5 linked regions of the Homo sapiens genome follow. The protein of the gene in region 3 interacts with the protein of the main gene of each other region in a biochemical or structural test. Each region holds a gene or a part of one and is shown on either strand. Other genes may lie near its edges. The genes, in order: SH3BP4, PINX1, TFRC, ALB and RAB8A.

Region 1 (6,055 bases), on a different chromosome or scaffold from region 3:
CTGCTTCCCAACCTGTCAGAATAGCCACCCACAGGCTGCAACCCTTTATGAGGAATGAGGCTCTCCTTTCCAAATGAACAAACCTTGTCATTCTTCAGCTGACACCATCACGGACAGAGGCTCTGGTGGGAGAGAAGTGGCCAGGACAGAGGGGTGCTCTGAGTGCAGCCACAGCCATGCTGCTGGGAAGGGGCAGGCAGAGGTACGGGGATGCCTCACACACGGACTCTATCAAAAACAGGCACAAAAAGAATGGAAAGAGGAAATGGAACCACAGAACAGAAGCATGGTATGGCCACGTGAGAATGCCTCCCGCTTGGATTCTTAGCCCAGCCCAAGGCCTGCATTCATTCATTCATTCATTCATCATTCATTCATTCATCCATCATTCATTCATTCAATCACTTATCCATCTAGTACCTCAGTGATTCTTATGTGCCGGGGCCCTTCCTCTCATGGGACCTATGTTCAGTTAGAGTAATAATGAGAAACAAGTGCACAAGAACATAAACAAACTTGTTTCTTTTCTTCTCTTCCTTTATTTTCAAGACAGGGTTTCACTCTGTTGTCCAGGCTGGAGTGCAGTGCTGCGATCATAGCTCAGTGTAGCCTCGACCTCCTGGGCTCAAGTGATCCTCCCACCTCAGCCTCCCAAGTAGCTGGGACTACAGGTGCACACCAACACACCTGGCTGATTTAAAAAAAAAAAATTGGAGAGATGAAGCCTCACTATGTTGCTCAGGCTGGTCTTGAATTCCCGGGCTCAAGCGATTCTCCTGTCTCAGCCTCCCAAAGTGCTGGTATTACAGGTGTGAACCTCCATGCCTGGCCAAAACAAACCGCTTCTGATTCAAGAAACACCATGGAGACAGAGGATGATGGAGTGCGCGGGGCTGCAGAGAAGGACGTCCTGGAGAGACGGCATTTGAGCTGGCAGCTGAGGGAGATGAGGAGGTCTGGGAAAGGGAGCTCCAGGAAGAGGAACAGCATAGCATCTGCAGGAGCTGGAGGCCGGGCGAGCTGGGTGTGTTCAGGGCAGGGGTGCACAGAGCACAGTGGCCCCCAGGGTTGGGATGGGTAGGGCCAGATCTTACACGACTTTGTGGGGCAGGGGCAAAGGCTGACCCCGTTCTAAAGGCAGTGGAGAGAGGAACAACCCAGGTCTCATTTGACTCCTTTTTCCTTCCCATCTCCCTGCACACTGACTGTCTCAAACTCTCACATTTTCCCCATCATTTAAACACTGTTTCCAACCCAAGGCATCAGAACAAGGACACCGAAAGCTATGCTAAAAATGAGAGGCAGGGGGTGGCCTGGCTGTGACTCTCTGGGAGGGGCAGGTAAAGCGGTGGCAGAGGCCGCAGAAATCGTGGCAGCCCTGTGATGACAAGCGGAATAGAACAGCCAGTTTTCAGGGTCTCCTAATAAACGACCTGGGAGAAATCCGTCTGTGGTTTCTATAAGTTTGGCCAAGATGATGACTGACACAGGTGTGGGGGGCGGGTGGGGACACTGCAAAACCAGTTTCACTTTATCACCACAAAATCTAACCTTGCCTCAGGGAGCCGACCTGGCCAAGGGCAAGTTTCACTTCCTCCTTTCTGGGTAGCGGAAGGACTCGGGCACAGAGGACACACCCCTCCCTGGAGCGGACAGGGAGGCCCACCAAAAAATCCCCTCCCAGAGATGCTCACCAATCGAATTGAGAGAGTTTGATCATTTATGTCTTTTGGAAAAAGATAAAAAAGCAGGAAAATGAGTGTAAAAGCCACCTACTCGGCGGTTATTTTCCACAGCTGGTGTGGTACTCCTGGTTGTGTCATTTTTCCACCTCTGGTGCAACGTCGAGGTGAGTGTCCTGGGCTCAGCAATGCTGTCAGGTTCCACGACAGCATGCACAGCCACGGCTGTGGTCTCGGGGCCGCCCGCACAGAGGCTCTCACGGGATGGAGGCGCTTTGTCTGCCACTGTGCTGGGTGCACCCGTGAGGAGACCAGGCCACGGCCCGGCACCAGGTTCTGGAGAGCCAGGAGGTGTGCTCTGAATCACACATGGGTGATGGCTGATGGGAGGGACGCAGGCCATCCCCTCCCTGCAGGTGACCCCACATGGGGGCCCGGAGGCTTCCCTGCTGCGTTTGTTCGCTTCCTCCCCACCCAAGTGCAGTGATTTCCTGGTTGCCAAGGTGGCCCCCCTGACGGCCGCTTCCAGTTCCATCTCCCTCCCCTGGGCAATCTCGTGGCTCCATGCTTCTGGCACTGCACACGACTGCAGGCCACCCAGAGAGGGTCTCACCCGACTCCTGCCCCACTCCTGCCGGGCTGCGTCCCTTCTGTCTCCTGGCTCAACATGGGCAGCCGAGCCGGGTATGTGCCACATGTGACCCTTGCCTGCACACCTGTGTCTACAGGACACTCTGGGCTCTCCCAGACAAACAGGGCTCAATCCAGGGGAGCCGGGGAGGTGGCAGAAAGGCCGGGCACCAAGAAGCACGCCTCTCAGAAGCTAGGATGCAAGAAAGCCTGCGGGCTCAGAGGAACGAGGAAGAGCGGCACACGCCAAGGTCACAGGGTTTTCCCACAGGAATGAACACCAGCAATGCGCCCCTCTCCGGAGGATAGGGGTGGACTCCGTTCTATCACAGGGAGAAGTCCACAGGGACTCTCCACCACAAACACCCCTGGGGATGCCAGGACACGGATATGGCTAAGCCTAGCCAAGGTAACCGCCAGGACCCAGCTCTGCTGACGGTGGGGCTGCCTGCGGGGAGCAGTGCTAAGAAAGCGTTGAGCAAATGCTCCCCGGTTGGCTCGTGGGCCAGGGCGTAACCCACAGTCTGATGCTTACTTCCCCCTTTTATTTCTTTGGATTCCAGTTCACGGTTGTGCTGGCAAAACAAATGCTGTCCTCGCCCCAACTCAAACCAACACAGAGGGGGAAGTGGAAACAATACAGAGATGTTAGAAGCTTCAAGGAAGCAAAGGCAAGAAAAACTCACATTACAATGAACACAGGCTTTGGGGCAGCGGTTCGTGGGACTCTGGAGTCAGAGACCCTGTTGGGAATCTAACGAACCACATCTGCTCCCAAGAGATCTAAACTGAATGGCGAGAGCACAGGCCGCCTTCTGCCCCCACCCGCATCTGGTCCATTCTGGGACCCTCTTGGAGCTCACAGATTCGGTGGGAAAAGTAACTGGAATGCTCTTCTTTGCAGGGTCCTTGGGTTGTCTGGGGCCCCCCAGGATCCCCCGTAAACCCCATCTCCACTTCAAGCACACTTCAAGCCCCACACGTATATCCCAGGCAGCGGGACATCAGCCACAGACACTGTCCTGGTGACTTACAACACCACGGCCCACGCCCACGCATATTGGGAAGGCGAAAGGCTGTGCTGAGCCGCACCTATCTCAGGCAGCGGGACATCAGCCACAGACACTGTCCTGGTGACTTACAACACCACGGCCCACGCCCACGCATATTGGGAAGGCGAAAGGCTGTGCTGAGCCGCACCTATCTCAGGCAGCGGGACATCAGCCACAGACACTGTCCTGGTGACTTACAACACCACGGCCCACGCCCACGCATATTGGGAAGGCGAAAGGCTGTGCTGAGCCGCACCTATCTCAGGCAGCGGGACATCAGCCACAGACACTGTCCTGGTGACTTACAACACCACGGCCCACGCCCACGCATATTGGGAAGGCGAAAGGCTGTGCTGAGCCGCACCTATCTCAGGCAGCGGGACATCAGCCACAGACACTGTCCTGGTGACTTACGACACCACGGCCCACGCCCATGTGCACTGGGAAGGCGGAAAGGCTTTGCTGAGCAGCACCCCTGAACGCCCAGGCACCTGCTGAGCACTCACCATCACAAGCTCCTTCTGGAAGGACTTCCGTTCTTTGTTCTCAGTGTTGTTACAGTCCTCCTTCAGCTTTTCTAGGACGGACGCCACCCGCTCGGGCTCACTATCCAGCTCTGCCCGGCAGAAAAAGGTGAGCGGCAGGTTCACGTAGCCCAGGGCGTCAGCGAAGGAGCGCCAGCTGCTGATGTTCTCCATGAGCAGGGTCCTCACGGAGGCATAGATGTACGTGAGGAATTTGCAGGGCCGCAGGATCTGCTCCAGCAGCACCGAGGTGCTCAGCTCGGGGCCCGAGCACAGGCTGGGCCGGGCCCTGCCGACCACCAGCACGTTCTTGGTGTGCACGAGGCCCACCCTGCCCTGGTAGTAGCCGATGTACCACTCCTTGGTCCACAGCTGGCCCCGGAGCCTGACCCGCTCCTCGCTGAGCAGGGCGATCCCGTCGCCCTTCTTGTACTCCAGCAGGTAGTGGTTCTTGTTCTGCCGCACCACAGTCTTGAGCAACTTACCAAACTTGAGGCTGGACACCGGGCGGTCCTGGAAAGTCGGGTACTTTGTAGTGGTGGCAAACGGGGACAGGATGATTTTCCCGACTTCGTTCTTCTTGAGAAACCTCCTTTGCCCGGAAGGCTTGATGGCACTTTTAGGGGGTGGCTGAGGAGTCTGGACACAAAACTGGGTGAGGATGGCCTCCTGGTCGTCCTTCACCTGAACCCGCAGCGTGAAGTCAGAGAGCTCGTTGGGGTTCTGGGAGGTGATGGGGAAGATCAGGCGGCTCACCTTGCCCAGCTTCAGCTGGAATCCTCGCACCACTTTGGCCTGCTCGCTGGCTTTGACCTCGTAATTCGTCATATTGGAAAACATACAGACCTTGAGATCCTGGGGCCTGGACAAAACGAACTGGTGCTTCCCCCACAGCTGCAGGGCCACCGGGGCAGGGTTGGGTGCCTGGCGTGTGACCTCGCTGACCAGGAGCGTCTTTGGGGCACAGTCATGCCCAAAAATGGTCACTACCGTCTTGAAGGATGGGTGGATGTGTTTAGGGCCGTAGAGACCCACTGTGACTTTTTTATTGATGAAGTCCCACACGGTGGAAGGGTAGAGGATGCTTGGGCCATGGGCCACGACAGCCACGTACATACAGGGCTCCAGGTTGTGCAGCTGTGCCTGGACCGTGTCCCCACAGCTGCAGTTGAGCGGGACGGAGACATATGGCCCTTCCTTCGAGTCGCTCCTCAGGCACTGGAGGCCCACTGTGCTTTTGCTAAAAAGGTCATTTTTTATCTCGGCTGACACTTTCATCTCCAAGATGATAGAGGTTTTCACCTCCAGGTTGCTCAGCTTGACCTCCAGCACAGGGCTGATGCTGCAGGACCTGTCACTGTTGAGCTCCAGCGGGGGGTCCAGCAGGGCTTTCATGGAGATCTGCTGGGTCTCCCCAGGGGCGACGTGGCCCTCGGGCACGTGGATGCTGATGCTGGTGTCAGGAAGCTGGACAGCACCCCCGGAGCTATCCAGCTTGCACACGATGTTTGTCTCCACGGCTTGGGTCTGGCCCCAACCAGGGCTTTGGCCAAGCAAGTCCAGGTCGTGGCAAGACCGGGCCAGCTTCCTGTGGTTTAGCCAGGCAGTTCGAAAATCCTCCCGGCTCTGAAATTGCTCGGGGGCAGGTGATTTCAAGCCGGTGAAGAAACTCGACGATGTGGGAGCATCGGACTTGGCTTGGAGGACGGAGAGTTCCGAGAGACTGTAGGAGCGCTTGCTTCTGAAGAAGGGGTTGTCCCGCCTGACCGGCGGCTCTGCGTGGAGTCCGTTTGTGACTGGAAGCTCATCGAAGATGTTGCCAGTGCTATTCGTGGTGGCTGAGCTGGATTCGGTGAAGGAGGATGTACCTGCGTCAAAAAGGAGCAAATCCACAGTACTTTTGGGATTCAGCTCATCCAGGCTGGGCATGACGGGCACGTTCCCATTCAGAAATGGATTGGTCTGGACCCCATTCCAGAAAGGGTTATTACTGTACATTCTGCCTGGTACTTTTTTGTCATCTGTCCATCCCCCGAGCAGCTCCAGCTCCTTGGCTACCTCGTCTGGGCTGTCTGGAAGATTATCAATCATACCGCTGTCACTCAGTGTTGAGTTCCGGTAGTTCAAGGGCTGCACATAGGAGGAGGGGATGTAGCCCATTTCGGTG
Region 2 (3,500 bases), on a different chromosome or scaffold from region 3:
CACTGAGCATGGCTAAGTGCAGGAAGTAGATCATGGAAACGACAATCGGCCTTTAGCACTGGGTAGTGACCCCTGCAGATCTGAGCAGCCTCAGCATCAAACGGAGAGACCATGTGGTCTGTACACACGATATTCCACTCCTAATCAGACGATTCTGTCGGCAGCTGTGATTGTCAGGGTCACGGGCGGTGTTGGAGGGGTATGCAACTATGATTGGGGTTAGCACAAGGGAGGCCTTGGTGGTAATGAAATAGTTCAGGATCTTCACTGAGATAATAATGGTTACACAATCCACAAATGTGATAAAGGGGCACAGAGCTGTATGAGCAGATGGTACCAATGCCAATTTCCTGGTTTCATCATGCTGTACTGTAGTTACGTAAGATGTAACCACTGGGGAAAACCAGATGAAGGGTACACAGAACCCCTTTACTATCTTTGCAACATCCTGTTCATCTATAAAAAGTTAAAGAAAAAACCCTCATGACTATTAATCAAGGGCTGCAGATGTTTCTTAGATATAAATACATTCAGATCATCCAGTTCAATAGAGAGACGAAAAAATACACAAGCAACACAACATCTATGCTCCAGATGCTCAAGCTCTTTCTTAATTCAGCCTCCAGCCAATAAGGAAGTCAAGTCGTTCTTCAGGCTGGCCTGGACACCTGGTCACATGCTTGTCAACCCCTAACAGCTCACCTCTGACTACAGGTAAGGTAAAGAAGTTTTGAAATTTAAACCATTATTTTCCACAAAATAGCAACAGCCAATCATTTTCCCACAAAGTTACGATACAGCATCAACCACTGGTGTCTCTGGTGAAGCTCAACAGAAGCTGCTAAGGCCTAACTAACCCCCTTCAATGTAGATTTTTTGTTAAATGAGAAAGAGTTCATTAACTTCGGCAGGACTGCTGTATTATCGGAGAAAGGCTGATTTTGGAATTGGACGGACACAGATTTAAAAGCCCACGTGTGCCATTTTGGAGCATTCTAACAATTCTCTCTGTGCCTCAGTTTCCTCACTGCTACAGAGGAGATACTGATATTTACATGACGGGATTGCTGTGAGGATGAAATGAGAAAAATCCAGCACAGGGTTTGGCACACAGGTGCTTAATAAAATTGGAATTCTACGATGGCAGTCAGGAGCTGTAGAAATTAAAATCAGTAGGCTTCCCTTATTGCAAGGGTGATGCTGTTACCCAAGCCAAGAACATGGTTAACGCCAACGTTCTGGAACTCTGGATGCTGAAGACAGATCAGCATCGGCACCTAACTAGAGCACCCACAGAGCTACTGCTACCTTAGTGGCCCGCACTACCACGGTTTCCAGGACTCTGGAGGGAGGTGACCTCCAGCAACACCTTGGCCTCTGCAATGCCAAATATAAATCCAGACCGACGGAGCTATGAGAGTCAAGCGAAGCAACAACATACAACATTCCCGCCAACTGAGGATGGGAGCCGAAAGAGGTTGTATTTTCAAACAAATCTGATCAAAGTCCTCCTGCCTTTGACTATAAGGGCTGTTGTAACTAACAAGGTTAAGGTTTCTTAGCAATAGTCTACTCAAGGAAGGTACCGGTATACCTCAATAAAAGCAAACTTAACATATGAACATCCACAAGGATGTCAAAGATAAATGTAGAGGTCATTTTGCTTTATAGAAAGATACTCTGTTTGTCTTAAATGTGATTACATTTAAATAGATTCTGTTTTCTGCACACATGCAGGCATGTCAAAAGGAAAATACTGCCTAGACGCGACCTCCTCAGTGTGGCACACAGGTCAGCAGCAGTATCACCTGGGGGCTCCTCGGATGGGGATGTACAGGCTCTCAGCCCCCGCCCAGGCTTCCTGAGTTGGAATCTGCAGTTTGACAGGGAAGACCTGTACACACGGCAGGACTTGAGGAGCTCTGTCCTCAGGGTTACTCACGACCCGGAAGCCAGAAGCTCTCAGTACAGCTGCATGGCAGGCTATCCCCGTGTTCTCAACCCTCGCTCCTTACTGAACGTCAGAATAACTGCTGCAACAATTGGGGAGGAATTAAAAAAAAATTTTTTTTAAATTTTTCTCCTTTTGTAATATAGATACCTGGACCCTGACCGAAGATTTAATTTAATCGGTCTTGGGCAGAACCCTGGCATTAGCATTTGTTTAAAGCTCATTAGGCAATGCCAGGACGACCTTGTTGAGAACTATGGCTACAGACGGAGAGCAGGGCCTGGTAGAAGACCACCTCACCAACAGGTAGGACCTAAATTTATCACTGGAAGAAAACACTGAACTGGAAGAGAGAGAGAGATGTGACTAATGGAAATCTCACACAAAACACGATGTTGCATCAAGGTTGATCATCTCTACACACACTGGACCAAAAGAGATTTTCCTGGGGCTAGCATTAGGGAACTGCTTTTGAAGCTCCTCAAACACAGGTGGATGTCTCACTTTAACATGACTTAGCTACCAAAGAGTCAAGTAACACCACACAGTGTTGAAAACCTCAAGGCACCCAACACCCAATAAATTCTCAAACAGAAATCTGCCAGAGGATCAGAAACCTCTGATCTCTTACAACTAAGAGCTTTCTGCACCAAACACATAAATTCTCTTAAAGTTCTACAAAAGCCCACAAGTAACATTTCCCTCCCTGATCTGTTCAACTGTACATTTTCATAGAGGGTGTCCGGGAGGGCAAAGGCTGGGGGTGGTGGGTGAGCAGCAGGCAGAAGAGAGGATCAACGTGCAGGGATGTGGAAACGCCAGTACAGAAGGCACGTGAGCCCCACGGGGCTGGGGAGATGGGGGTTATCTCAAGGTATGGGAGGGACGTGGAGTTGATACAAAGGCTCAGGGTGTGATCGTGGGGTGGGGGCAGCTGTTGGGCAGAGCAAAGGAGATGGAGTTCAAGAGGCGCGGGACTGGAATTCTAGTTCTTCCTGAGGACACGGAGACGACTGAGAGAGTCAAGGAAGAGGGGTTGGAGAGGAGGCTGGGATAAGCCAGAGGCCATGTCCTTGGTGAACAAGGAAGAGTGGCGTAGTCCAGGTCTCACGGTGAGCACTGAGGGCAGAGGTACAACCAGAAGCCAGCCTGTCTGACCATGGCTCTTTCCAGCAGCCCCTTGTGAAGGAGCAGCCGGCACGGCCGGATGTCAGAGCGGCTCCTCCCTAGTGACCACTGCCTATCCCGTGACTCAGCATAGTCCGCGCAGGCACCAAAGCCAGGTATCCTTTCCCAGCCTGCTGCTTCCATCTGCTGAGGGTGCAGGGGCAGACAGGGGCTAAAAGACCCAGGAATTCAGTCCCAATCTGCACAGGGAATCATCTAATGAGACTTCTAACCACTGGTAATTCTGGACTCCCTAAAAATTATTACTATTAAGAAACAAACCACCACCCTAGAAATAAAGATTTCTGTCAGTCTGGAAAAATGCCAGGAATCAATAAACCAAGTCTTCTTTTTTGTTCTATGGTCACCAAGGGCCCTGGCT
Region 3 (6,055 bases):
GGTGCCTGTAATCCCAGCTACTCAGGAGGCTGAGGCAGGAGAATTGCTTGAAGTCGGGAGGCAGAGGTTGCAGTGAGCTAAGTGAGATCACACCACTGCACTCCAGCCTGGGCAACAGAGTGAAACTCTGTCTCAAAAAATGAATAAATGAATAAACAGAACAAAATTTCAATAGCTGTTAGGCCTCAGTACATGAGTAGAGAGGTATGCTACTGCTTTCAAATAGATTGCTTAGGGACTATGATCCACCTTATCACTCTGGATCCACCACACTAAGCACTAGGGCTCAGTAACTCCACTGTCTCAAAGAAACTGGTGATTTCTAGCACAGTTAAGACACTTTATGGAAAGCTGTTTCAAAGGAAAAGGCAGCTACAACAAAAGACAATCTGCCTTGTATTTAAGAACTAGAGTCTAGCATGAGAACCACAGGAATGCAGGCAAAGTGAGCAAAGCACAGTATAACATCTAGAACTGTATGCAGTGCACCAATATTCAAAAGAATCAAAATTTGTACTCTACCTTTTAAGACCATATCTGAGAACATCTGGGCAAGTTTCAATAGGAGAGCTGTGCCTACACCGGATTTTGCAGCTCCAGGGCCCCATGCATCTCTCTGGGCCCCAACTACAACATAGTGATCTTTAAAAAAGAAAAAAGAGGAAGAAAGAACTTATATAATCAGCTTCTAAACTTTTCTAGAATTAGCACATCAGTAGAAAGGTAAAAGCACAGTATATGTATTAAGGATAAAAGAGCCTTACTTCAAATCTGACTAAAAACTCTGGGAATTAAAAATTCACATGAGAATATTAATTTTACCTTACTAGTAGAGCTACTTTTTTCCTACACTACTAATTAAATTTACTGACTACTTAAGTCCAAGGACTTATTTCTTAGTAAGTGTTGGCTGTTTGATTGCATTTAAAGTTAACTCCAGGGACTGGCAAACTACAGCCCGCATGCCCATTCACTACGCACAGTCTGTGCCTGTTTTCTTGCTCCCACAGAGTTGAACAGCTAAAAGAGAGACTGTATAGCCTGGCAAAAGGTTTATTATCTGCCCCCTTAAGAAATTTGCTTATCACTGGTCTAGTCAATAACTTAGAATAGATTTTCTAGTCATAATGGTCAATTTTTAACAAGAATTTCCTAGGGCCTTATTACCTCCCAATAAAACTGACACATAGGCTGGGCGCGGTGGCTCATGCCTGTAATCCCAGCACTTTGGGAGGCTGAGGGAGGCAGATCACCTGAGGTCAGGAGCTCTGACCTCATGGAGCCTGACCAACATGGAGAAACCCTGTCTCTACTAAAAATACAAAATTAGCCAGGCGTGGTGGCGCATGCCTGTAATCCCAGCTACTGGGGAGGCTGAGGCAGGAGAATGGCTTGAACCTGGGAGGCGGAAATTGCAGTGAGCCGAGATCACACCACTGCACTCCAGCCTGGGCAACAAGAGTGAAACTCTTTCTCAAAAAAAAAAAAAAGAAACTAACACATAAACAATTAACTTTAGGACAGACAAGATTGAGCACTTCATAAAACCAAGCCAAGCCAGCATTCCTACACTCGCTCCTTCTCTAGCCACATCCTTAGGAACAGAAAAGAAAACAAAAAAAAAGCGGGGCGGGGGGGGGGGGGGGCGGTCTTTACCTGGTTCTACAAAGCCTTTAATAACTCCAAAGATGTTAAGAATTTTTATCTCTTTCAGCACATTGCTCACAGTGAGCTTCACATTCTTGCTTTCTGAGGTTACCATCCTACATGTAGAGTCTGTTTTCCAGTCAGAGGGACAGTCTCCTTCCATATTCCTAGAATCAGAAAGCAGGCGTAAGTTCTGAGTTATTGTTCCTTGCCCAGGGTTTACTCCTGTCCAGTGAAGTTACAGATTAAGAGGACATATAAACAAAACTTACTCTCAGCCCGGCGAAGTGGCTCACCCCTGTAATCCCAGCACTTTGGGAGGCTGAGGCAGGTGGATCACAAGGTCAGGAGTTCAAGACCAGCCTGACCGACATGGTGAAACCCCGACTCTACTAAAAATACAAAAATTAACTGGGCATGGTGGCATGCGCCTGTAATCCCAGCTACTAAGGAGGATGAGGAGGAGAATCGCTTGAACCTGGGAGGCGGAGGCTGCAGTGAGCCGAGATCACGCCACTGCACTCCAGCCTGGGCAACAGAGCACAAGTCCTGTCTCAAAAAAAAACAAAACAAAACAAAACAAAATAAAAACAAAAAAAAACTTACTCTCTAGTGGTGAACCATTTGCGTCTTACTTTGATCTGCAGGCAGCCAATTGGAAACCATTAATTAAGCAATATTTTAAAACACTTCTCTAACTATGCGCCTTTCTGCCAGACATACTTACGTAGTTTATATTTGGAATACATACCAAGATGGACTCAAAATGAAGTTCTTCTAATATATAAAAGAATATTAATACACTTTTATGTTTCCCAACTGTCACCACTAACAAGGATAGTACACATTCTTAGCTCAGTTATAAAAAATATTCCTCAGCTGGGTGCGGTGGCTCACGCCTGTAATCCCAGCACTTTGGAAGGCCGAGGCAGAATTCCTTGAACCCAGGAGGTGGAGGTTGCAGTGAGCCAGGATCATGCCACTGCACTCCTGCCTGGGCAACAGAGTGAGACTGTCAAAATAAAAAAAAAATCTTGTGCTTCCCCTATCTAATTCCTCTGTGTTACCCAAATAATAGCTGCTCCTAAGGGGGCTTACTTACATAAATATAGGTTGAAACATTATTACTCCCCTACTACATAAGGATAAGATGGGACGCTGGCTTCACAGGTTGGTTACGATTTGTAGGTGGTAGGTAGAATGAGTCAAAAAAATCACCTATGCTAAATGCCTCTTAGCGTTATCAATAGTCATGGTATGTTACACACTCCCCTATGCTAAAGGCCTCTCAGCATGATCAACAGTCATGGTATTTCATATACTCCTTATATACAGATGTTCTTCATTTGAGACTATCAAGTAGAATATATTTTCACTATCCAATTATGTTAAAGAAACAGGATCAGAGAACCTATGTCATACAGGAGATAAATGCTTTCATAAAGGCCTGAAACTAGATCTCCATCCTGTAATAACAGGAAATGATAAATATGTCCACATCCAAATCAAAATTAATGCTACGTACTCTAATGGAACTGGGCTCTGTTTTTAAAGAGAGACACTAACGTTACAGGGAGGATATCCAGAGGAGCGAGCCACAACCATAAATGGTTTCTCTGGAAACCATCATAAGAAGCAAGGCTTCTCAATCTATAGACAAGGTAACTGGAATCATACCGTATTGCTTAGAAGAAAAATCCAGACAAATGGATGTTTCGGGGAATAGGATTTTATCCCAATATGAATTCTAACAGATTCTCTCTACTAACTGAATGGGCTGCTATAGGCATCGTGCTTCAGCACAGAAGTACTTGAGCAGAAGCTATGCCAGGAATCTTGCACAAGGAATTCACTGGGTTTATAAGTCTCCTTATTCTCCTGTGTTTATAAGTCCAAAGTCCATTATTAAGATCTCTTTATAGAGAAAAATTCATTTATATCTGTACCAAGGTAACAGCTAACCATCCTCCAAATTCCCAAATGTGGAAAATTATCATCATGTTTAACATTTTAATCAACATATTACCGTTCTTCCCTAATCATAAAACCTCACTATGCAAGACCGCTTTCAAATAAAAACTTACCCAAACAGCTTTTCTGCAGCAGCTCTGGAGATTGTCTGGACAGGTATATTAGGCAATCCTGATGACCGAGATGGTGGAAACTGAGTGTGATTGAAGGAAGGGAATCCAGGTGTGTAAGGGTCACCTGTCCCCAGATGAGCCTAGGAAAACAAAAGAGCAATTCACTCCATCACATACTTCCTCAAAACTTCTCTGTAAGATTCAGGTTTGGTATAAGGCTGCAGCCCAACCTTAGTTTACCAACTTGAAGCCTCAAAAATCTGAGTGGCTCTACAATGTGACTCCTGTTTTCATGGCATATGGAAATTCTCAAATTCAAGGCACTATTGACAAAGTACTTTTAGCAACAAATAATAAAGCCTCAAAGTCAATGTAATCTATCTTCTTGCTTACTGCTAACGCCCTCCCAGAAAAAAGAGCAGTTAAGGAAGACACAGTGCTATTTCTGCTAATACAGGAATCCAAGAACAACTCAAGGAACTCAAAACGGTGATTTACTCAAGAAATAACTCACATGTCCAAAGAATGAAAGTTCTGCGTTAACAATGGGAAATTTAGTCTGGTCCATGTATATCAACACACCAATTGCATTTAAGCTTTCAGCATTTGCAACCTAAAAGAAAACATATAAAGCTCAGAAAATGAAGATCTGATCATACGAAATGAGAATACATCCTGGACATTATGCTAAAGGCCAAATGGTTACAGAGGACTAAACTTATAATACTTCCAAATATTTCAAATTGTTTATCTGGTAATTTATTAATTGCTTCCTGAAAAATTAACTCACTTGTTTGCAAAATAAGAGTAACGGGCCAGGAGTGGTGGCTCACGCCTGTAATCCCAACACCTTGCAAGGCTGAGGCAGGGGGATCACAAGCTCAGGAGTTCGAGACCAGCCTGGCCAACATGGTGAAACCCTGTCTCTACTAAAAATACAAAAATTAACTGGGCGCAGTGGCTGGCGCCTGTATTCCCAGCTATTTGGGAAGCTGAGGCAGGAGAATCGCTTGAAACCATAAGGCAGAGGTTGCAGTGAGCCAAAATTGCGCCACTGCACTCCAGCCTGGACAAAAGAGCAAAACTCCCTCTCAAAAAAAAAAAAAAAAAAAAAAAAAGAATAACAAAGGCCAGGAGTGGTGGCTCACACCTGTAATCCCAGCAATCTGGGAGGCCAAGGCAGGTGGATCACCTGACGTCAGGAGTTCAAGACCAGCCAGGCCAACGTCGTGAAACCCTGTCTCTACTAAAAATGCAAAAATTAGCCAGGCATGGTGGTGGTGGGCACCTGTAATCCCAGCTACTCAGAAGGCTGAGGCAGGAGCATCACTTGAACCTGGGAGGCGGAGGTTGCAGTGAGCTGAGATCACGCCACTGCACTCCAGCCAGGGTGACAAGAGACTCCGTCTCAAAAAAAAAAAAAAAAAAGAAAAGAAAAATAACAAAAACCCATCTAAGACAACCACTTTTTTGAGTCTCACTGTCACTCAGGCTGGAGTGGCACGAGTCACATCTCACAACCTCCAGGGCTCAAGCAGTCCTCCCACCTCAGCCTCCTAAAGTGTTGGGATTACAGGTGTGAGCCCTGCCACTTTTTTTAAAAATGCAGAAATCACCACTGTCTTTTGATATGTTCCACTCTAGTTCCTTGTGTATGTTTGGCTATTAATTTTCCTTTTTATAAAACATGCTTTTAGCTGAATTCTGTATATGCGTAAAACTGAGTTATACAGAGAAATAGCTTTCACTTAAGCACTTCTGATTAGGTAAGTGGAACTTACTTCATTTGTTGAGCATTTTAATAAATTATATTATCTGGTATGAGAGTTTAAGATTGCTGATTTTCAGAATGTAAGAATATTAACAAGAAATATCACTTACCTGAAGAGTAAGATACCAAAAGTACTGTATTTAATATTATAATAACTCATACTCACCTTTTCTGCAAAGGTGATTTTCCCTGCTCTGACAATCACTATAGATCCATTCACAGGAGTGTATAAATCCTCAAAATCTTTTTTAGTACCAAAATTAGCATGGACCAGTTTACCCTAGAACAAAGACATTAGATTTAATGAGCATTATGGTATCGGAACAGCTCTAAAATCTTGAGACAGAAGAGTGTTATAGATCAAACCTAAGACAGGCAACCCAAGTAAGAGATAAAAGGAGGCCAAGGCCTAAAAAAGACATGAGTTCTAAAAAACTTTACAACTTTTAGGTCAGAGCTATTGGAATAAAATCAAGATTTTTGGCCTCCTATGTCTTTCATGCTTTTATCCCATGCTGCCTTTCATCTGAAGGGCATTTAGATTAAAGAGGCC
Region 4 (6,055 bases), on a different chromosome or scaffold from region 3:
GGAGGGAAAGGTTTAACCATCAAAGACTAGGTGCATCTCCCAAACAACCTGAATTTAATATTCAAATATGTATCTAAATTCATTTGTTACATTTTTGTGTTCAGCTTACATATTACTTTTTGAGCGACATCTATTCAAGGCCTACTACTTGCTGCTCTACAAAATATTGCCATGCTCTATTTGCCCATTAACTATTTCTTAACCTTCAAGGGACATGCTCAGTTCTGATATACCAAGATTTGGTATTTACCCTCCCAGCCTACATACTTCCAATCTTAAGAGAACAATTTTTAGACTACATTCAAATATAGACCTCTCCACCCCATCAACTATTTTATCTCTCCTCTCCTATCTTTCTTGACAAAGAGTGATTAGAAATATGCAATGTATTTTCATTCTTAAAAGTTCTATGCTAGGTGGCTCATATATTAAGTCTTAAATAATTACAAATTGATAAAAAAAATCAGTCAATAAAAATTACTTACGCATTCTGGAATTTGTACTCTCCAAGCTGCTCAAAAAGCTCACAATTTTGTTTGATTAAATTCTGAGGCTCTTCCACAAGAGGTTTAAATTCATCGAACTGAAACATAAAAGAATTGTGTTAATAGTATTATGCCTCAGGATCAGATGCAGGTTGTTTTTCACCCCTCTGGTCAGAATGATATCCTTTCTTCTTCCTACTCAAAGCCACATGAATAGATGAATATCAATGCCGCTCTGTCACAATACATTCGAACTATTTATTTGGTGAGCTTGCATCATGTAAGTGGTTAAGAATATTCAGGCTCTGGAGTTCAATGACCAGTATTTGAGCCAAGTCATGTAACTCATTCTTCAGTTGTGCAATTTTACTTACCATCTCCACATTTCAGAATCCTTATCCCTAAAATAGGGGCAAAGATGGCACTCATCTCATAGAGCTGCTCTGTAAACCAGGTAAGCTAATGAAATTAAACAGTGCCTTGCATATAATAAAAGTTTAATAAATGATGGCTATGATTGTACATATTATTATTATTAGTTCACCTTTCCAGTTAGATTCCAGGCTCTCCAAAATGAGAGATTTTACGTTGGTCATTGTTTGTGCATGGTGCCTGGCATACAGTAGCTTCTTGAAAGCAGGAAAAATGAGTTTTCTCTGATTCTGAATAGTTCAGAAACCATTACATATGCTAGTGGGAACCCTAAAAATCCTCCAGAACAGATTTCCTCTCCTAACTTAATTTCTTGTAAAACTATTCCTAAACATCCTCAAAAAGATTTGAAAATATTCTAAAGGGATAGGTTCTATAATTTGCCATAAGATACTAATTCTAGTACTTGATTAATCCTGGAATCAGGTTAACTCACTTTACATCTAAGTTAAATATCTTCTAATTAACATTTAAATTTAATTTTTTTTTGTTCTCAGGATTGTGAAAAAGAGAAAAAAAGATCAAAATTTTTTAGAGATTGCTCTATTCAGATCTTTCTATTCTAACTAGTCTAAATTTTGTTAATCATTCTAAGGCTACTTTTTCTTTCATGTTTAAGATTCCAGAATTGAAACCATCTCAAGAAAAGATCTAAATTGCACTGTATATCATTTTACATTCTTGCATTATTTTTCTTTCTCATTATTGGAATCATCAGTCAAAGAACTACATTTTTTTCCAACAATAAACCTACCACTTTGGCATAGCATTCATGAGGATCTGCAGCGGCACAGCACTTCTCTAGAGTGGTTTCATATGTCTTGGCAAGTCTCAGCAGCAGCACGACAGAGTAATCAGGATGCCTTCTTGCATATTCATACAAAAACCTAATTAAGATGAAAATAAAATAGACTTTGTTGGACAAATGAGCACAAAAAATATCACAAAGCTAATCTCAAAAGTAACTCATATTCCAAAAGTCTTAATTTGACTAAACCCCATGCAGTAAAGCTTAGTAGCTAAGGACTTGGGGTCCAGAGTTAAAGTTACCAAGGCTCAATTCCTAGCTCTGCTACTTATATCACTGCATCACCTTAGGCAACTTATTTAAATGATCAGAGCCTTAGTCTCCTTCTCGGTAGAATGGAAATAATAATAGTATCTGTCGGCTGGGCACAGTGGCTCATGCCTGTAATCCCAGCACTTTAGGAGGCTGAGGCAGGCATATCACCAGAGGTCAGGAGTTTGAGACCAGTCTGACCAACATGGTGAAACCCCATCTCTACTAAAAATACAAAATTAGCCAGGCATGGTGGTGCATGCCTGTAATCCCAGGAGGCTGAGGCAGGAGAATCGCTTGAACCTGGGAGGCGGAGGTTGTGGTGAGCCGAGATGGCACCATTGCACTCCAGCCTGGGCAACAAGAGTAAAACTCTGTCTCAAAAAATAAATAGTATCTGTCTCGGAAGGTGGATTATGAGAACTATATGACATAATCTACACAAAGCACACACTGCTTGGCACATATGAAGTCTTTGATGAATGATACTTGTTATTTTTATTAACATTTTGTTTGATTTAAACTACATCTCAAAAGGATTCTGATAAATAGATGGGCAGAGATATGTTCTTAAAATATTCTCTTTCTTCTCTGTATGAGTGAAATCTTGTAGGGTACATAATTTTAGGAAATATTATTTAGTGCATTATCATAATCCAACAACAAAAATGCAGTTTATCACCACAACTTCTGACAATATGTAAACATTTATTTTGTAATTGAGTTGCCTACCATATTGCCATTATACTGAACTTCTGGTCTTTTCACCAAATATAAAGCACCTGGTGTCAGACTCTATATTTCTTTTTATACTTCTTTGCTATCATTGCATAGATTAGATAGATAGACTAGATTAGATTAGATTAGTTAGATAGACAGGCAATACATAGTCACACACATATATTATAGATGTTCAAGAAATACACTTGGAATGAATGACTGAAGTATACATAATTTATATATACACAAAATGTTTCTAGACGTATTTTCAGAAATACCCCTAAGGAGTAAGGAATGTTGAGCTTTGCCATGAACATGTATTATTTTATGACAATGTATTCAACTAATTAACTATTTCAAAAATTGTTAAAGCCTGGGAAAGGGAAGGATGAAGAAACATTCTGGGCAGCAGGGAAATTGTAGCAACTCCACAGAAAAGCCTAGGCTATCCTCCTAAGTTGTGAGGTCATGCCAAAGCTATAAAAGAATAATTTCTTATCTACTTACATGCCCAGGAAGACATCCTTTGCCTCAGCATAGTTTTTGCAAACATCCTTACTTTCAACAAAATCAGCAGCTAATGAAGGCAAGTCAGCAGGCATCTCATCATTTTCCACTTCGGCAATGCAGTGGGATTTTTCCAACAGAGGTTTTTCACAGCATTCCTTCAGTTTACTGGAGATCGAATCTTGATTTTCACAGATATACTTGGCAAGGTCCGCCTATAAGTAAGTTGGTGGAAATTGTTCAACACGAATTGACATTGCTACACTTTCTCCTCAGACCTTTATTAAGTTGGCAGAACATATTCATTGTATTCTAAGACCATACACATATTCCTTCTATGAACATACTCTGTTTGCTCCTAAACCTGGAGATGTAGATAGGACTACAAAAACATTCCCACTTAATTAAAATAGACTAATCAGTAGCAGGTGCTCAGCTCAGTTATTTATTAATTTTATGTTTCTACTGTTAGGGCATTTAAGTTTTTTTCATTAAAACTCAATGCTGTTTTTCCAAATAATCCCCCAAAATTAAGTGCAGGCCTTTTGAAACCAAATAACTAAATAAAATATAGAAGATTTTTGAAAAATGAGTCAAGATCATAGTCATAGGCCCTGCTTACATATATAAAATAACCGCCTTAAATTTTCCAGAAAGTGCCATGAGAGATTAGGATTCTAGTATTTGCCCATAAGTTTAATCTTGAAGAAAGGGAGAAAGAAAATATTATAAGTTTTGAGAAAAGAGATATCATTCCAAATATTTGCACATCTAACAAACAGAGTTAATTAAGGGAAGGAATATAGAGAAGAAAAATACATCATTTCCAAAAATCTCTTCAAGTAGTGACCTTCTCCAAGTCCACCTACCTCCCTCAAAAAATCTTCTTAGGCTGGGCAAGGTGGCTCATGCCTGTAATCCCAGCACTTTGGGAGGCCAAGGCGGGTGGATCACCTGAGGTCAGGAGTTCGAGACCAGTCTGGACAATATGGTGAAACCCCGCCTCTACTAAAAATACAAAATTAGCCAGGTGTGGTGGCGCATGCCTGTAATCCCAGCTACTTGGGAGGCTGAGGCATGAGAATCACTTGAACCCAGGAGGCAGAGGTTGCGCTGAGCCAAGATCACACCATTGCACCCCAGCCTGGGAAACAAGAGCGAAACTCTGTCTTAAAAAAAGAAAAAAAAATCTTCTTAGACATCTACCTTGCAAGATGTTCTGCCAAGTAAAACCTTGTAACTGTTCTACTTCAGTTTAAGCCTTCATTTACAGTTAGAGCATGACTGAAAGGAGTTACAAATCAGTGAATGGGTTTATCTGGTAATTTATAGCCAGGTTAAAAACAGAAAGGTACCACCACCATAGGCAGGGAAAGATTGAAGATAGGACAGACGAAAGCACAGAAGACAATCTCAACCCACTGTCAGCTATCACCAATGATACCAAACGCATCCATTCTACCAACTTGAGCATGCAAGCTACCAAAAAGCATATCGACGACTCTTTACCCTGTCATCAGCACATTCAAGCAGATCTCCATGGCAGCATTCCGTGTGGACTTTGGTAAGATCTGTCACTAACTTGGAAACTTCTGCAAACTCAGCTTTGGGAAATCTCTGGCTCAGGCGAGCTACTGCCCTAAAAAGAAAATCGCCAATCAAAATGGTATTATCATGCGATATTTTATATGAAAACACTAGGCAAATACTATTTCTCATAAGAAAATTCAAAATGGACATACAGAAATAATTTTTAAAATTCATTAGTTCTAGTTCTGAACCAAATGGTAATCACTTATCCTTAGGGCAGAATTATCCATTTAAGAGTGTGTGTGGTAGGTAGAAATCTAGCAAGTCATAAAAGCAGAAATTAAAAAGGAACTCTAAAAGGGGCAACAGGCTGAGAAGCATCAGGTTTGGAGTCCAGATGTGACTTCCAGCTCTGGCTTTATCACTTGTTAGCAGTAGGACTTGTTAGCAGAGGGCTCAGCCTCTCTGAGCTTCAGCCTCTGCAGTGTCATGACAACATGCTAAATTGAAGAAGTTTTGAGGATTAAATTAGATAATACATACAAAAGCATTTTATAATCTGGGAAGTACTACACAAACTCCAGTTATCTTTTTTCTCAATTGAAACACATTTTTTCTGACTTCTAAAGGTCTCTTAGAAAAGAAATCATAACTTCTACAGAATGAGGGAGTTTTTATTGATCTTACTTATAAAAAGAAAGATCCAGCACTATCTTCAAACTCTATGACAAGATGTAAACGTCTAATTTTCTTCATTCTCTAGTCATTTCACAGTTGCCTAAATCAGGTAAAGGTGACTTCTTTCCCAAAACCAATCATAGCCTGTTTATCTGTGTATAATTTTATGTTGGGGCTGTTTTTTTTCATAAATTTGGTTGATTTTGGTGGTGTAGATGGTAGGAATGATGAGCAAATACAGTTCAATTGACAGTTTCTAGAGAGCATGCATAATGTCTATTATTTTCATTTTATTTCCTGTTGTGTTGATTTGCTGTTGACTAGCAGGTGAGGAGTGTGGGTGACGGGGCAGCTAGTATTTTTCTTGACTCGGCTATTAAAGTATGCTCCCAGAACCAACTAAGTAATATGAAAACAGAGGCTCAGGCAAAAACATGAGATGAAGATCAGAGCTGGAGCTATGCAAAAATAAGAAGTAACTTCAACTTAGTTGGTGACTGAATTTAACTATAAGACATAAAAGGACAAGCAAATAGTTTTAGATCATTGGGGGGAAGATAAAATTAAATAAAGGGATTATATATGTTGTATACTTATATCAAAATATCTCATATACCCCGTAAATATGTATACCTACTCTGTA
Region 5 (6,055 bases), on a different chromosome or scaffold from region 3:
CCACTGTTCTCTGGTGCCGCTGAGGCCTCCCTTCCAGAGCCTGCAGCCGATCAGGCACCTGTGTCTTCTCTCCCCGCGCAGGGCATCATGCTGGTCTACGACATCACCAACGAGAAGTCCTTCGACAACATCCGGAACTGGATTCGCAACATTGAGGAGGTGAGGCCCTCCGGCTCCTCCCACTGTCCCTGCTTCAGTCCTTGTCCCAGAGCCCTCTGGTTTACTCATGAGAAGGCCAAGGTGCAGAGACACATACAGGCCACTTGCCCACAGCCTCCTAGTCAGGGACATGGTGGGAGCAGGGACTGAGATGCAAGCAGCCGGCCCCAGGGACCACACACTGGCCTGGCCCCACCCCGGAGCCCCTCGGAGCCCATCCCTCCAGCTAGGCTGTTGGATCTGGCCAGTGTCATGGTTATAAGAGAAAGGATATCCAAGCTTGTGGTCACCATGAGTGTTGGGTGCTTTCTAGAGAAGGAAGGGTCTAGCACAGGTGTGACCCTTGTAGTTGGAGGGTGTGGTGAGCAGGCGTCAGTTGTACTTTGAGCTATATCGGAGCAGGGTGTGACCTGGTACAAACGACCTGTGTTCAGACCTTGAACCATAGAGCAGTGAGAAGTAGGCCAACCCCTCCTCCCCTCCCAAAGCCAGCATCTTCATCTTCTGCTCCCCAAAGAGCTGACCTCACCCCCAAAGCCTTCCTGGCTGCCGGCACCTGCAGCTTTCTATAACTAACCATGTGGGGCTTCAGGTCTGAGGCACAGCCAGAGAACTTTTCCCATCTATAAAACCACAGCAAAAGGGCATATCACTGTCCACCCAGGACTCATGGACCTCCCAGGCCAGGCCGAGAGGCCACCCCATCATTTGTGAGTCATTGCACTGGGCTCACCTCCCCAGTGACCCTGAGAGGGCTGTGCTGCCAAATTTGCCAGTGCAGGGCTGCACCCCAGCTGGGAAAGCTGTCTTCATCCGTGGAGAGGAGGAGAGCCTGGTCTTTGTGAAAGGTCTCTGTTTCTGGCCAGCGGGCAGGAGCCACCTTCTGGTTCATGGGAAGTGAGGCAGGGAGTGGCGCAGTAGGTTCCAGAGACCAAGTCTGAGCTGGTGGAAGAAGACAGCAGTTTCCAGTGTCCCCGTCCTCCAGGAAGCGTGGTCCGCTCCATGGGGACCCAGGGAGACTTGACGAAGGAGCTGCCTTTGGGTATGAGGGCAGAGTTTGGGCAACATCAGACAGGGTGGTGAAGTGCCTGCAGCTGGTGACGGCCTCGAGTTGCGACCACCTCAGGCACGGCCTGTTTCTGGAGCCCAAAAATAGTTGAAATGTCAGGGCCAGGCGAGGTGGCTTATGCCTGTAATCCCAGCAGTTTGGGAGGCTGAGGCGGGCAGATCACCTGAGGTCAGAAGTTTGAGACCAGCCTAGCCAACATGGCGAAACTCTGTCTCTACTAAAAATACAAAAAATTAGCCTGGTATGGTGGCAGATGCCTGTAATCTCAGCTATTCGGGAGGTTGAGGATCGCTTGAACCTGAAGGCAGAGGTTGCAGTGAGCCGAGATCATGCCACTACACTCCAGCCTGGGAGACAGAACGAGACTCCATCTCAAAAAAAAACAAAAAAAAAAGTGTCAAAGCAGAAGGTCCCAGGACAACAGCTGGGGCCTCTTGCAGAGGAGCCAGGGAGGGAAGGAGGAAAGCCAAGGTCGGGGGGTAAATATCTCAGCCTCACTCACCTCCCATAGGCTAGACCCGCCCAGCATCCCAGGTGCGGGGGCTTGATTGATACAGCCATAGAAGCTGCCAGAAAGCATTTCAGAAAATGTGCATTTGCTCAGAGTAGCAGCTAGAACCCTGGCCCCAGCCCTGGCATTGGCTGTGTGACATGGGGCCGGCTGCTTGGCCTCTCTGAGCTTCAGCTTGTCCCTTAGACCAGGCTGTACCTAGCAGTCCTGACCCCACCGCTCTGATTTCTGGGGACAGACTGTGTGTTGGCAGAGGCACCTGGCCTGTGTCATCCGGTCTGATCCCCCGTCTGTCCCCCTCCCTCTCAGCACGCCTCTGCAGACGTCGAAAAGATGATACTCGGGAACAAGTGTGATGTGAATGACAAGAGACAAGTTTCCAAGGAACGGGGAGAAAAGGTGGGCATGGTGGCACAAGGGGCAGAGGGCCTCGGGGTCTTGGGGTTCTTGTGCAGAGGCCTTCCCCTGTCCCTCCTCTGCCCCAGGGGCCTGAGACGAGTTGGTCACCCCAGTGGGGCACGTGCCATGGGATGACAGAAGCACACACCCAGCCGGGGCTTCTTGGGTGCACTCTGCGGGCATCTCATCAAAACCTACCATGGCCCCGCTCCAGACTTTCAAGACCACAGGAGCGGGGAACAGAGCCATAGTTTGATCCCAGCAGGTCCCCGCCACCCTCCCATCTCAGCTGCCATCCCCAGCAACTCCATGCCCTGTGAGGCCCTGTGGAGGGGCATTCACTATAGAATTGAGGGAGTGATCCAGGAAGTCACGCCCACAGCCCCAGCCCTGTTGCTGCTCCCTCTTGGCGCCGGCCCTGCCTTCAGCTCCTGTTTTAGGCAAGCTCAGATGCGCCCGGCGGCTGGTGTGCTCATGCGTGTGCCTCCCTCTCTCACAGCTGGCCCTCGACTATGGAATCAAGTTCATGGAGACCAGCGCGAAGGCCAACATCAATGTGGAAAATGTGAGTCCCGGGCCCTGCTGGGAGACATGGGGCCTGCAGGATCGGCCCCTTCAGGCTAAAGGGGGAGCTGGCGTCCTCCGAGGAGGTCCTGCCAGACGGACCAGCCTCGGGCTCAGGGCTGCCAGTCAGTCCTCTGAGGGACATTTCCTGGGCAGTGCCACGTGCCAAGCACAGGCAGCCCCTGGGAATGTGCCATCAGCAGGGACAGGCACCACAAAGGGCACCTAGGACGCATCTCACGGGCTCTTGGGCAGCCCTGGGGAATAGGCACGGTTTTACAGGTGAGGAAACTAAGGCTCAGAAAGACCCAGCTCTGTGTTTACCCTCTCAGCCACACCACTCACCCTGGAGAGGCCCCTGTCAAAAAAGCCCAGACATAGCAGGGAGCCCTGATGGGACCTGGGCCCATGCCACCCTCCCCTCTCCACGGGGCGACCCCAGCCCTGCGGCCGATCCTGTGATGTTTCCCCATCCTAGTCATGTTTCCAAGGCGGATCTTCCATATCACTCCCGACCTAAAGTCTCTATGCTGACGTGAAGACAAAGGCTAGACTCCTTGCCTGGCGTGGAAGGCCCTCCCTCACCGGCTACAGCTGGTGTTTGCCACCCAGGGCTCAGGCCTTGCCCTCCCCAGGCCACCTGGGCTGCTCCCTTCTCCAATACGTCACTGCATTTCCCTCCTGTGTGCCCCTTTTTCTGCCTGCCAGGTTCCCTTTTCTAGTCAGGGCCTGGCCCTGGGGGCCTCTCCCCAAGAACACCTTCAGTCTCCCCTGGGCCTTCCTCCGCACCCCAAGCCACTCTCCTCTCCAGAACCTCCCACATCATGGGGATGTATGTTGGGATCACGCCTCCCGCCATCTCTGTATGTCCCCTCCTCAAGGCTGTGACAGCAGCTCAACCCTTGGCTGTGCTGGGAGATGAACCTGCTCCCGCTCCCAGCCCTGCCAGGCAAGGACTCCGAGTGAAGCTTGTTTGGCCACAGAGCTGCTTGCCTTTTTCCCTGACCATCAGAAGGGAGGCCAGAGCTGACAGAACCTAGGAGTCAGAGACAAAGAACTGGGCACTCCTAGATCCTTCTGGATTGGTCGGTTAACTGCTGGGTTCCTTTGGACAAGTCACTTGGCCTCTCTGAGCCTCAGTTTCCTCTCTGGCCAACTGAGTGTCGCCCCATCTCACAGGGCTTAGGGGAGGTGGCACATGCGTAAAGTCCCGTCAATGCTAAGGTGCTCTGCGGAAGTGAGAGTTGATGTCAGAGAGTAAGGGTGGGTGGGAGGCAGAGGGAGCCGGGGAAGGATGAGCTGGGGCCGGACAGGCCAGATGAACCCACTGCCAGAGGCGGGCATCAAAGGGCCAAATGGGAGGCCCACGCCTGGGAAGCTGTCTCACCACACCCGCTGTACACGGGCGGCTGAGGACTCAGGGTCCTGCCATCCCAAGGACTCACAATGTGCTTATTCCACAGGCATTTTTCACTCTCGCCAGAGATATCAAAGCAAAAATGGACAAAAAATTGGTGAGTGTGTGTCCTTCCGAGATCCCCGGGTGGATCTCTGGGATCCAGCCATCGTCGTTAGCAGCAGTGATATGACGTGCCCTAGATCCTGCTTTTTAGGGCCCAGCCAGACCCCATGGGACATTGCTGGGAAAGGGGGAAGAGTTTGCAGGTGTGGCTGGGGCATCAGCATCAGGCAGTGCCAGCCTGGGGACGCTGCCCAAGCAGACAAGGCCGTGCCCGGTGAATCCCCAGGCTAGCAGGGAGCACACGGCCTTTTCCATTCCACTCAAGGGCCAGAAAGACAACATGGTGTGCAAGGACAGAGAGCCATGGCTCGGAGAAAAGCTTCCTAGGTCGCTTGGGCAGGGCCAGGGCTGGTGTCTGATAACTGCTGGCTCATCGTCTTGACAAGCATGGCAGATCAAGAACCTGCCCCCGCTCCACCCCAGCCCCAGATGCTACAAGTTGTGACAGCTCTGCAACCTTCATTGTGTCCCAGGGTTCTCTGAGGCCTCCAGGGAAGTCTGCATGAATCCCTACCCATCTACCCTCTCATTCGTTTCTTGCTTTTTTTTTTTTACCACGTTAGCGATTTCCTAGTCCGCTGCGCTCAGTATCAATGGTGCTTTCTTGATGGAATCAAACACTTCCCTGTACTTTGGGGGCATTTAGTGCCTAAACACCGTAGTGACCCTTCCTCCCTCGCCCTGGTTCCAGCAACTGCCCTTTCCCGGCCATGTTACATTGGTTGTCCAATCGAGGAGCACACGGCGCTCTATTTGTGGGTTAAGTCTGGTCACTTGAGAATGCACATAAAATACAAAATGCCGTTCAAGTTTTACATCTGATGTAAGCAAATCTGTTTTGTAATTCTAAGATGCGGTGTGTTGAACAGTGAGGCATGTGATTGATTTAATAGCAGCTCTTTGGCCATTAAATTAAAATGGGAAACAGTTCATGGAAACCAGTGCACTGACCAACAATAATTTGGGATTTTCTTGCAATTTTTTTTCTTCAGTATAATGGTCAAGGTCTGATTCTTTTTTCTTTTAGTTTTCTTATTAGTTAAAAAAGAGATTTTTTTTTTAGAGTCTCACTTTGCCACCTAGGCTGGAGTGCAGTGGCACCATCACAGCTCACTGCAGCCTTCAACTCCTGGGCTCAAGCAATCCTCCCACCTCCGCCTCCCAAGTAGCTGGGGCTATAAGCACACACCACCATGCCTGGCTAATTTTTTTTCTTTTTCTTTTTTTTTGAGAAGGAGTCTCGCTCTGTTGCCCAGGCTAGAGTGCAATGGTGCAATCCCTGCTCACTGCAACCTCTGCCTCCCAGGTTCAAGCGGTTCTTCTGACTCAACCTCCCGAGTACTTGGGATTACAGGCACATGTCACCACGCCCAGCTAATTTTTGTATTTTTAGTAGAGACGAGGCTTCACCATGTTGGTCAGGCTGGTCTTGAACTCCTGACCTCAGGTGATCCACCTGCCTCGGCCTCCCAAAGTGTTGGGATTACAGGTGTGGGCCACCCCGCCTGGCCATTTTTTCTTTTTTAAGAGGCAGGATCTCACTTGTTACCCAGGCTGGACTCAAACTCCTGGGCTCAAGCAGTTCTTCTGCCTCAGCCTCCCAAAGTGCTGGGAAGGGTATGATGGGGTGGGCAGATAAGTGAGAGAGTGGTTGGAAGGGGTGGTATATAGCAGATGGAAAATAGATCTGTTTCTGAAAAACGAATTATCAGTTGTAAGAGAATTGGATGGATGGGTAGAAGATAATGGATGGATGGTTGGTTGAAAGGGAATAAATCGATGGTTGATTTGTTGGAAGGAGATGGTTGGATAGATAGATGATTGGTTTGTT

Evidence for each region.
Region 1: the proteins of TFRC (region 3) and SH3BP4 form a complex in vitro, tested with the Homo sapiens proteins (one study listed by IntAct).
Region 2: the proteins of TFRC (region 3) and PINX1 interact in a test that uses a peptide from one of them, tested with the Homo sapiens proteins (one study listed by BioGRID).
Region 4: the proteins of TFRC (region 3) and ALB form a complex in vitro, tested with the Homo sapiens proteins (one study listed by IntAct).
Region 5: the proteins of TFRC (region 3) and RAB8A form a complex in vitro, tested with the Homo sapiens proteins (one study listed by BioGRID).

Annotation. Positions count from the first base shown.
Region 1 is NC_000002.12:235,041,063-235,047,117, reverse strand, and holds part of SH3BP4 (SH3 domain-binding protein 4), read right to left. Parts: coding exon 3,871-6,055; intron 1-3,870. UniProt on the Homo sapiens protein: May function in transferrin receptor internalization at the plasma membrane through a cargo-specific control of clathrin-mediated endocytosis.
Region 2 is NC_000008.11:10,815,876-10,819,375, forward strand, and holds part of PINX1 (PIN2/TERF1-interacting telomerase inhibitor 1), read right to left. Parts: intron 1-3,500. UniProt on the Homo sapiens protein: Microtubule-binding protein essential for faithful chromosome segregation. Mediates TRF1 and TERT accumulation in nucleolus and enhances TRF1 binding to telomeres. Inhibits telomerase activity. May inhibit cell proliferation and act as tumor suppressor.
Region 3 is NC_000003.12:196,063,787-196,069,841, forward strand, and holds part of TFRC (transferrin receptor protein 1), read right to left. Parts: intron 5,783-6,055; coding exon 5,669-5,782; intron 4,345-5,668; coding exon 4,246-4,344; intron 3,872-4,245; coding exon 3,732-3,871; intron 1,815-3,731; coding exon 1,657-1,814; intron 643-1,656; coding exon 523-642; intron 1-522. UniProt on the Homo sapiens protein: Cellular uptake of iron occurs via receptor-mediated endocytosis of ligand-occupied transferrin receptor into specialized endosomes. Endosomal acidification leads to iron release.
Region 4 is NC_000004.12:73,410,784-73,416,838, reverse strand, and holds part of ALB (albumin preproprotein), read right to left. Parts: intron 4,844-6,055; coding exon 4,714-4,843; intron 3,420-4,713; coding exon 3,205-3,419; intron 1,805-3,204; coding exon 1,672-1,804; intron 584-1,671; coding exon 486-583; intron 1-485. UniProt on the Homo sapiens protein: Binds water, Ca(2+), Na(+), K(+), fatty acids, hormones, bilirubin and drugs. Its main function is the regulation of the colloidal osmotic pressure of blood. Major zinc transporter in plasma, typically binds about 80% of all plasma zinc.
Region 5 is NC_000019.10:16,125,389-16,131,443, forward strand, and holds part of RAB8A (ras-related protein Rab-8A), read left to right. Parts: exon of another isoform or gene 1-81; coding exon 82-159; exon of another isoform or gene 160-1,599; intron 1,600-2,048; coding exon 2,049-2,138; intron 2,139-2,637; coding exon 2,638-2,703; intron 2,704-4,165; coding exon 4,166-4,216; intron 4,217-6,055. UniProt on the Homo sapiens protein: The small GTPases Rab are key regulators of intracellular membrane trafficking, from the formation of transport vesicles to their fusion with membranes.